Regions from separate parts of the Homo sapiens genome. Here region 2 is linked to region 1. Evidence: fine-mapped expression QTL. A gene starts in region 1. The other region holds a variant in brackets. All regions are shown on one strand. Distances are from middle to middle.

Region 1 (4,394 bases):
TCGCTCTTATCGCCCAGGCTGGAGTGAAATGGCGCAATCTTGGCTCACCGCAACCTCTGCCTCCTGGGTTCAAGCGATTCTCCTGCCCCAGCCTCCTCAGCAGGGGATTATAGGCGCGCGCCACCATGCCCGACTAATTTTTGTATTTTTAGTAGAGACAGGTTTTCACCATGTTGGCCAGGCTAGTCTTGAACTCCTCATCTCAGGTGATCGGTCCGCCTTGGCCTCCCAAAGTGATGGGATTACAGGGGTGAGCCACCGAGGCCAGCCTATAATTCTATAAAATCTTTCTTACAGAAATAGTCACACGGGATGCATGTACAAAGCGGCACTATCTGTAATACTCAAAAACAGGAGGCAATTTTTAAAAACCTATCAGTAAAGGCATAAATAATTTTTAAAATGGTATACTCATGCTGTGGAATACTATGCAGCCATTAAAAAGAATTCTGTAGACTTTATTTATTGACAAGGATGCAAGTCACAGAACAACTACAGTTTCATCTTGTTAGTACAACAAACAGGACAATAACATAGATTTAAATTCAAATGTAAATATATGTGGGTACGCACACAAAAAATCTAAAAGGAAACATGGAGCAAAAAGCCTGGAATTTTCAGGTTTTACTTTAAAATTTCTCTAATGACAAAAATCTTTAAAACAAGCACGAATAACTTTTTTGACTTTTAGAAACCATTTTTAAAAATTAAATACTGGGAGGTCAAAAAGGAAAAAAAAATCAGTCACGTAACAAACGTAACTTCAACCACGCTTAACAATGTAATGGAACTAATTTTTAAAGCAAATGTGGCAAATGGCTAAAAAAATACTGACCAGTTCTTAACAGTTTTTAACTCCACGCAGTTACGCCAGAGGTAGCACACTTTAAGCTATGCACATACAATTTTATTTACAGAGCCATGCTACAATTGAGGTATACGAAATTTAGTTTATCACTTCATAAAATAAATTATTCTTAAAAGTTACACGAGACAAAAATACTAACCAGGGTCTCTTGTTCCGAAGCTGGAATCTGTGAGGTGGTTACAGCACCATCAGTAGGTACAGACATGTTGGTATTGCACATTTGCCTACAAGGAAAAAAAAGACACGATGAAAACTGGAAATCATGAAACATCTGTGGAAAATACATCATATATAAAGAACATAAACAACAGTTAAAACTAAAGCTACAAGCAAGTCGGTGCTTACCTGGATCAGCAGAGAAAAAGTGGCGTGCGTCCGTGCCCACAGGTCTACCCTCCAATCGCCACTGAACACAGCTGGGAAAATGCATGGTTTAAATAGCCCCAGCTGGAGACAAGTCAGGACTTAACTCCTTTTACTGCAGTTTCGGAACGTGTCTGAACTTGACCAGCTCAAGAGGAAAAGCTGAGTCAACCTGCCCACTGAACCGGCCCAATCCCGCCCAGACTACGCGCAGCGTTCACACTAGTGACCCGACAGGCACCTGCGATCATCCGGACCTCCCGCGCCGAAGCGGCCCCGCAGCCCCCGGCCCCCGTGACCTTTACCCTGAACTCCCGCGGAGACCTCCGAACCACCCCCACCCCCACCGCCGCGAGAGCCGTCCGAAATCCCGCCCTCCTCCCTGGCGGCGACTGCCTAGCCCCAGTCCAACAAAACCTCCGCAAAGCCACGTGCCCCATGCCCCGCGCCCCGCGCCCCGAGCCCCCAGCCACGAACCGCACAAAGGCTGCGAACGGGCAGAGGCTGGGAACCAGCGATAGAGGGGACACCGTCAGAGCCCAGACCCAAAAGTGACCGCTCGCTGCCGGGCCAGTACCTGCTCCTCACCATCCGGGGTTTTCGCGCTTGGAGTCGGGGGTCCCTCAAGACTCCCCAGTTTCCTTCACGGGGCGCGCGGAAGCACGACGCCCTGGGCCTCGGGGATCATTCCACTCTCCGGGCCAGGGCACTGGGCGCTCGTACGCACTAATCCGGGGAGGGACGGTGCTCCTGGCTGCGAAAGCAGCAGGATCTCGGTCAGAGGGGTCGCGGCCGCCCCTCGGGCTCGGCTTCTTGCTCCATCTTTCCGACACACAGGGCCACACAGGCCCCAGAAGCAGCCAAGCTCGCCGCGGTGCCTCGGTGCGCGCCCCCTACCGCCCGAGGGGAGCGCGCGGGTCGTCGCGGCGCATCCGGGCATTTGTGCGCGCGCACACAACCGGCCCCGCTTCCGCCAATTGGGTCCGGGGCTCGGCCGCACCACCTCCGGGATGATGGAGTGGGGGGTGTCGCCCCGCGGGCGCGGCGGGCTGTGAGGCGGGGTGGGGGTGTTGGCCGCGAGCTGAGAGGGTGGGGCTCGGCCTGGCGCGGAGCCAGCAAGGTTTGGCGCTGTGACACTCCTTTAGCCGTTGCGCTATGTTTGTATTTCTTGTGTTTACACTTCCCGCCCGCGGTGGAAACTGCGACAAATGCGGATCTCCGTGTCGCTGTTACCAAAAAGAAACCAAAATTAACAGCTGTTTAATATATTAAGCCCACTCCACCAGCCGCTGGAGTTGTACCCAAATGAGTTATTTTAAGGCCTGTTTTTAAAAAAGATTAAAAATAGCACTTAAGGCAGGCTTATACACCGGTGCATACAGCTGTTCTGGTTGGAGAACGAAGATGCTGGTTACCGTTGGCGGGGAGGGGAGCGGTTACTCTGCGCTTTTAGAATGTTTGGGTTTGGCTGGGCGCGGTGGCTCACGCTTGTAATCCCATCACTTTGGGTAGGCCGAGGCGGGTGGATCACTTGAGGTCAGGAGTTCAAGACCAACCTGGCCAACATGGGAAACGCCGTCTCTACTAAAAACTACAAAAATTAGTCGGGCGTGGTGGCGGTCACCTGTAATCCCAGCTACTCTACTCCGGAGGCTGAGGCAGGACAATCCTGTGAACCCGGGAGGCAGAGGCTGCAGTGAGCCAAGATCATGCCATTGCACTCCAGCCTGGGCGACAGGGCAAGACTCTCAAAAAAACAAAAACAAAGTTTGGGTTTGTTAATCTACACATTCATTATCATTAAAATATATACTTATATATTATGCACTCATTCTGACTCACCTACTTTCCCACAGAGATGTGGCAAAAACGTTTTTGATGCGGTCTCATAAATTGAGGACATAAAGAATTGAGTTAGCTAAACCCAAAAACACAGCCATTGCAAAGAAGGAACACGTTTCTTCTCTGGCCAGTAAGTGATTAGCTCCTTGTGAACAAGGACCTTTTTTTATAAAGTTATATCCTTCCCTTCTGCAGCTTTTTTTTTTTTATAAAGTTATATCCTTCCCTTCTCCCGCTTCCCAGCCTACCAGAAAGGAAACTTCCTTAAACATAGTGGTCACTCAGTTGATTTAAGTTGATTGCCAATATTATTAACTTAAGAGATTTAATATGTGGCTTTTAAAAAGATAATCTCATCTTCATCAGATCATATACAGTGGGGTTTCTAATAGACTCAGTGCTTGACCCTGGATGAAAGAAAATCTCAAGCAGTGAGAAAATGTAAGCATGAAAAGATAAGTGATAGGCTGCGCACGGTGGCTCACGCTTGTAATCCCAGCACTTTGGGAGGCTGAGGTGGGTGGATCACGAGGTTAGGAGTTCGAGACCAGCCTGGCCAAGATGGTGAAACCTTGTCTCTACTAAAAATACAAAAATTAGCCGGGCCCCGTGGCGGGCGCCTGTAATCCTAGCCACTTGGGAGGCTGAGGCAGAAGAATCGCTTGATCTCGGGAGGCAGAGGTTGCAGTGAGCGGAGATCGCGCCACTGCAGTCCAGCCTGGGTGACAGAGCAAGACTCCATCTCAGAAGAAAAAAAAAAAAAAAGAGATAAGTGATAGAGGTTGATATTTGTTAAATATCAAGTGAACGAATGGGTTTGTGCTATAAAAGTTCAGAGACAGAATTAATTGCTTAGTAAATGCTGGAGGCAGTTCACAAAGGCCTCAGAGATCACACATATTTTGTGTCTTGAAAGATGGTGAGACTTAAATAAAAGCAGAGAATATTCCAGGCACAAGAAAATTATCAAAAAATACAGAAAGGAAAATATAAGAGGACTGTTTGAGATACAATAAATAAATCCGTTTGACTTGCATGAAAGTCAAGAAGAAGTTTTAAGAACTTGGAGTCTCCTTAAATGCCAAGCAAGGAAATTTGGGCTTTCGACAGAGTAGACATTAGAAGCATAAAAACAAGTGATTTGCTTCAAACTGTATTTTAACAGGACCACCAAGAGTAGATTCAAACTCAGAATAGTCGGGCCGGCTGCCTTCTGGACCGACTTTCCCCCTTCTCATTGGCCTTGTGCTTTGAAAAAATTATCTTGACAAAATTATTAGAGCAGAAAAAAAAAGGCAGAACTGATAAGATTAGTCCTTTT
Region 2 (4,394 bases), 20 kb after region 1:
ATTGCTCTGTCACCCAGGCTGGAGTGCAGTGGTGCAATCTTGGCTGACTGCAAGCTCCACCTCCCGGGTTCCCGCCATTCTCCTGCCTCAGCCTCCCGAGTAGCTGGGGCCACAGGTGCCCACCACCATGCCCGGCTAATTTTTTGTATTTTTAGTAGAGACAGGTTTTCACTGTGTTAGCCAGGATGGTCTCGATCTCCTGACCTCATGATCCACTTGCGTCGGCCTCCCAAAGTGCTAGGATTATAGGTGTGAGCCACCGCACCCAGCCAATAATCATAATTTTTAAAAGAAACTGTCCCAGCTACTCAGGAGGCTGAAGTAGGAGGATCACTTGAGCCAGGGAGTTCGAGGTTGCAGTGAGCCGTGATGGTGCCACTGCACTCCAGCCTCGGTGACAGAGCAAGACCTTGTTTCAAAAAACAAAACAAAACAAGAACTATAGTTCTTGTTTTTTTTTTTTTTTTTGAGACAGTCACCCAGGCACATGCCACCGCACCTGACTAATTTGGTTTTTTTTGTATTTTTAGTAGAGACGGGGTTGCACCATATTGATCAGGCTGGTCTCAAACTCTTGACTTCAGGTGATCCACCCGCTTCAGCCTCCCAGAGTGCTGGGATTACAGGCGTTAGCCACCGCGCCCAGCCCAAAAACTATAGTTCTTACAGTGGAAGGTGGAAGGAGTTGCAATTGAAAATAGTTAGATGTTCTAAGCAGCATGTTGATAAAGGTGGGGAAACCAAGCTGTGTGTACTTAGAAATGGGAGAAGACTAGTAATCATTAACTAGAGAGGTCTATTGATCTCTAGGGCCTCACTCATCCAGCAGAGGTTTAGGTGGCAAGCATAAGGTTAAAAATCCCAGGCCTTTCCAGAAGACTGGTGAGTCACATGGACGGGTGGACCAAGAACTGTTGGACATTTAGTTGCTTTCCTATTTTTTTTGCTATTATCAATAATGTTTCTCAGCCTGATGGTGCACACCAACTTAGGAGACTGAGGCAAGAGGATTGCTTTAGCCCAGGAGTTGGAGGTTGCAGTGAGCTATACTCGCACCACTGCACTCCAGCCTGGGCAACAGAGCAAGACCCTGTCTCTAAAAATGATAATAATAATAATGCTGTGATAAACTTCTCTGCACAAAAATCTTTATGCAGGGCTGGACGTGGTGGCTTACACCTGTAATCCCAGTACTTCAGGTGGCTGAGGCCAGAGAATCACTTGAGGCCAAGAGCTCAAGACTAGCCTGGGCAACAAAGAGAGACCTTGTCTTTACAAAAAAATTAAAAAAAAAATAAAAAACTTAGGCACACTCGGTGTCATAAGCCTGTAGTCTCAGCTACTCAGGAGGCTGAGGTAGGAAGATGGCTTGACCATGGAAGTTTGAGGCTGCAATGAGTTATGATCTTGCCACTGCACTCCAGCCATGGTGACAGTGAGACCCCATCTACAAAGAAAATCTTTTTGCACATCTTTACTTTCTTAGGATAAACTCCTGAAAGTGGATTTTCTGGGTTACAGGGCATGAGCATTTTTGTGGCTATGCAATTTATGGTCTCATGATGAATGTAAGATGGTACTTGTTTTCCCATACCCTCGACAGGACTAAATTTGGGAAAACATGGATTTATAGGTCTCTATGAAAATTAAAATGTTTCCCAATTTTATATGTTTAAAAATTTCATTTAAGAACAATTTAAATCCATTGGAAAGAGCTGTAGAAAAAGGAATTTGTAGTAAAAGGGATTTGCTTTGTGTTGTACTTCAGTGAGTGCTGGGTCTTTTTTTTGTATTAATATTCCCAAGTTGAAGTAGAAGTGTTCATCAATGCTTTAACTTGTGGGCTTAAAGGAGAGGTGTGATACAAGGAAAAAGGGGTGGTGGAAAATATTTTTTAAAAAAATGTAACAGGCCGGTTGTGATGGCTCACACCTGTAATCCAAGCACTTTGGGAAGCTGAGGCAGGTGGATCACTTGAGGTCAGGAATTCGAGACCAGCCTGGCCAACATGGTGAAACCCCGTGCCTACTAAAAATACAAAAATTAGCCAGGCATGGTGACACCCGCCTGTAATCCCAGCTACTTGGGAGGCTGGGGCAGAAGAATTGCTTGAACCCAGGAGGAGGAGTTTACAGTGAGCCAAGATCGTGCCACTGAATTACAGTCTGGGTGACAGAGCGAAACTCCATCTCAAAAAAAAAAAAAAAAAGGAACACGATAAGAAATCAAGGCGAAAAGAAGAAAAGAACAAACATGGGAAAGGAAAATGATGGGAAAGCAGGCAGGCCCGGACTCTGGCCACCGCACGGGCTTTTGCCTGGACTTGCCCATTTTCCTGTGTCATTGCTGTCCCATGTTTTCAGTTCACAAGTTGAGCAACTGCAGCTTCCTTTATCATTAGAAGAGGAAATGAAAGAGCAAGGGTACAAGTAATTACTGGGGCCAGCACAGAATGTTTTTTGTTTGTTTTTTTCTTTTTTTTTTTTTTGCCCGGCTTGTTTTGTTTTTTTAGAGGGAAAACCCATGTGTTGCAACTTGTTCAATCACCAGGATTTTAGTCCTCTGACCTTCAGACGTTAGTCATTCCTTCCTCTTAAACAGCTCC[T/C]TCCCTAGTTTTTGAACTGGTCTTTGGGTTAAACACAACAGGGCCCTTCTAACCTCTCAGAAAAGTCTGAGAAATAAATTCAAATTCTAATAAGTAGTATTTCTGAATGTTAAAATATGTATGAATTGGCTACATATTTTATATTGTTAGTTCTCTCAGGATCTTTCCTATATAGTGAAATTCACTGAGCTAAAATGTAATGTTAAATACTTACAAGAGGCTTTGGTTATAAAATGACTGAAGAGGAATTTCTCTATAAATAGGTTTAGGTTTAGGAAACCTGCAATAGCAGTGGCTCCACCTAAAGACCAGAAAATGACACAGTCTAACTGTGATGTTTTCAAGCTTAGAGGCGGTCATTCACTTTAAAAGTAAAGCGACATGGTTTTTATCTCTCACCACCTTGCTTAAAAGTGATGCAGATAACTTAAAAAGTGATTTAAAAACATAAATTCAGCACATAAAACACATAATCCATAAAACACAGCACATAAAAGTATGATAGAAAATTATTTAATAATTTTAAAAAGTAAATTGTAGTTACTCTTAAAAGAAGACTAGAGTCTTTGCCACAGTTAAAAAGTAAGTAAGGTTAGGCCAGGCGCGGTGGCTCAAGCCTGTAATCCCAGCACTTTGGGAGCCCAAGGTGGGCAGATCACGAGGTCAGGAGTTCGAGACCAGCCTGGCCAATATGGTGAAACCTCCGTCTCTACTAAAAATACAAAAATTAGCCGGGCGTGGTGGCAGACGCCTGTAGTCCCAGCTACTCGGGAGGCTGAGGCAGGAGAATCGCTTGAACCTGGGAGGTGGAGGTTGCAGTGAGCCGAGATCGTGCCACTGCACTCCAGCCTGCGTGACAGAGCGAGACTATGTCTCAAAAAATAAACACATAAAAATAAAATAAAAAGTAAGTAAGGTTAAAAAGAAAGAAAAGTAAACTAGAGTCCAGACCAAACTAGACCAGAACTTTCCTAGCAAAATTGAAACAGTTATTTAGCTGAGTGTGGAAAGGTAAATCCTATGCATCATGTCACAAGTACACACATCATTGCTAGGTGGGATGGCTCATGCTTGTAATCCCAGTGCTTTGGGAGGCTGAGGCAGGAGGATTGCCGGAGCCCAGGAAGGTGGCTTGAGACTGCAATGAGCTGTGATTGTGCCACTGTAGTCCAACCTGGGGGTCAGAGACCCTGTCTCAAAAAATAAAAAACAAAAAAACCCCGCAACAACAACAAAAAAGAAGTTCACCATCAACCAGTTTATTGATTTACTGCCACTATCCTCTTGGCCAAGTATCAAAATATTTTAAGCATGAATTTGGCTGTGACCCTTAATTCATTAATTAATTCATTTACTTTTAGAGATAGGGTCTCGCTATGTTGGCTAGGTTGGAGTGCAAAGTCTATTCGAGGCATGACTGTAGTGCACTACAACCTTGAACTCCTGGGCTGAAGCGATCCTCCCACCTCAGCCTTTCAAGTAGCTGGCACCACAGGCTCACACCATCATACCCAGCAATTCATATATTTAACGAATATTTACTGGCACAGTGCAAGGCATTTAAAATATAGCCTGATTAAAACATATATAACCTGTGCCTTTTTTGAGCTTGCAGTATAGTAAAGGAGAAATACAAGAAGCAAATAAATATATAATTGCAAACTGGGATGAGGCATTAGAAGGAAAAGAACTGAGTTCCTAAAAGAGAGACTAGCAAGGTTGATCTTGCTAGTCTGAAATCTGACTGAGATACCATGAGTAATGATCACTTGATTACTCAGAGAACTGC

Evidence for each region. PIP is the estimated chance that this variant, and not a neighbour inherited with it, causes the effect.
Region 2: its variant is the best candidate, but not a certain one, in a credible set for the expression of MDM2 in whole blood (INTERVAL, PIP 0.54).

What each region holds. Positions count from the first base shown.
Region 1 is chr12:68,805,906-68,810,299 of GRCh38, reverse strand. MDM2 (MDM2 proto-oncogene) reads right to left here and starts at 2,123. Exons shown (of 11, transcript NM_002392.6): 1 at 1,809-2,123; 2 at 1,008-1,092. The coding sequence starts at 1,822. RefSeq lists enhancers at 1,146-1,535, 635-1,834 and a silencer at 2,036-2,425.
Region 2 is chr12:68,785,655-68,790,048 of GRCh38, reverse strand. No RefSeq gene overlaps it. Among named protein-coding and RNA genes, the nearest start is that of MDM2, 20 kb to the left of the region's middle. RefSeq lists enhancers at 1,696-2,249, 2,250-2,804. The variant T/C (reference allele first, on the strand shown) is at 2,606.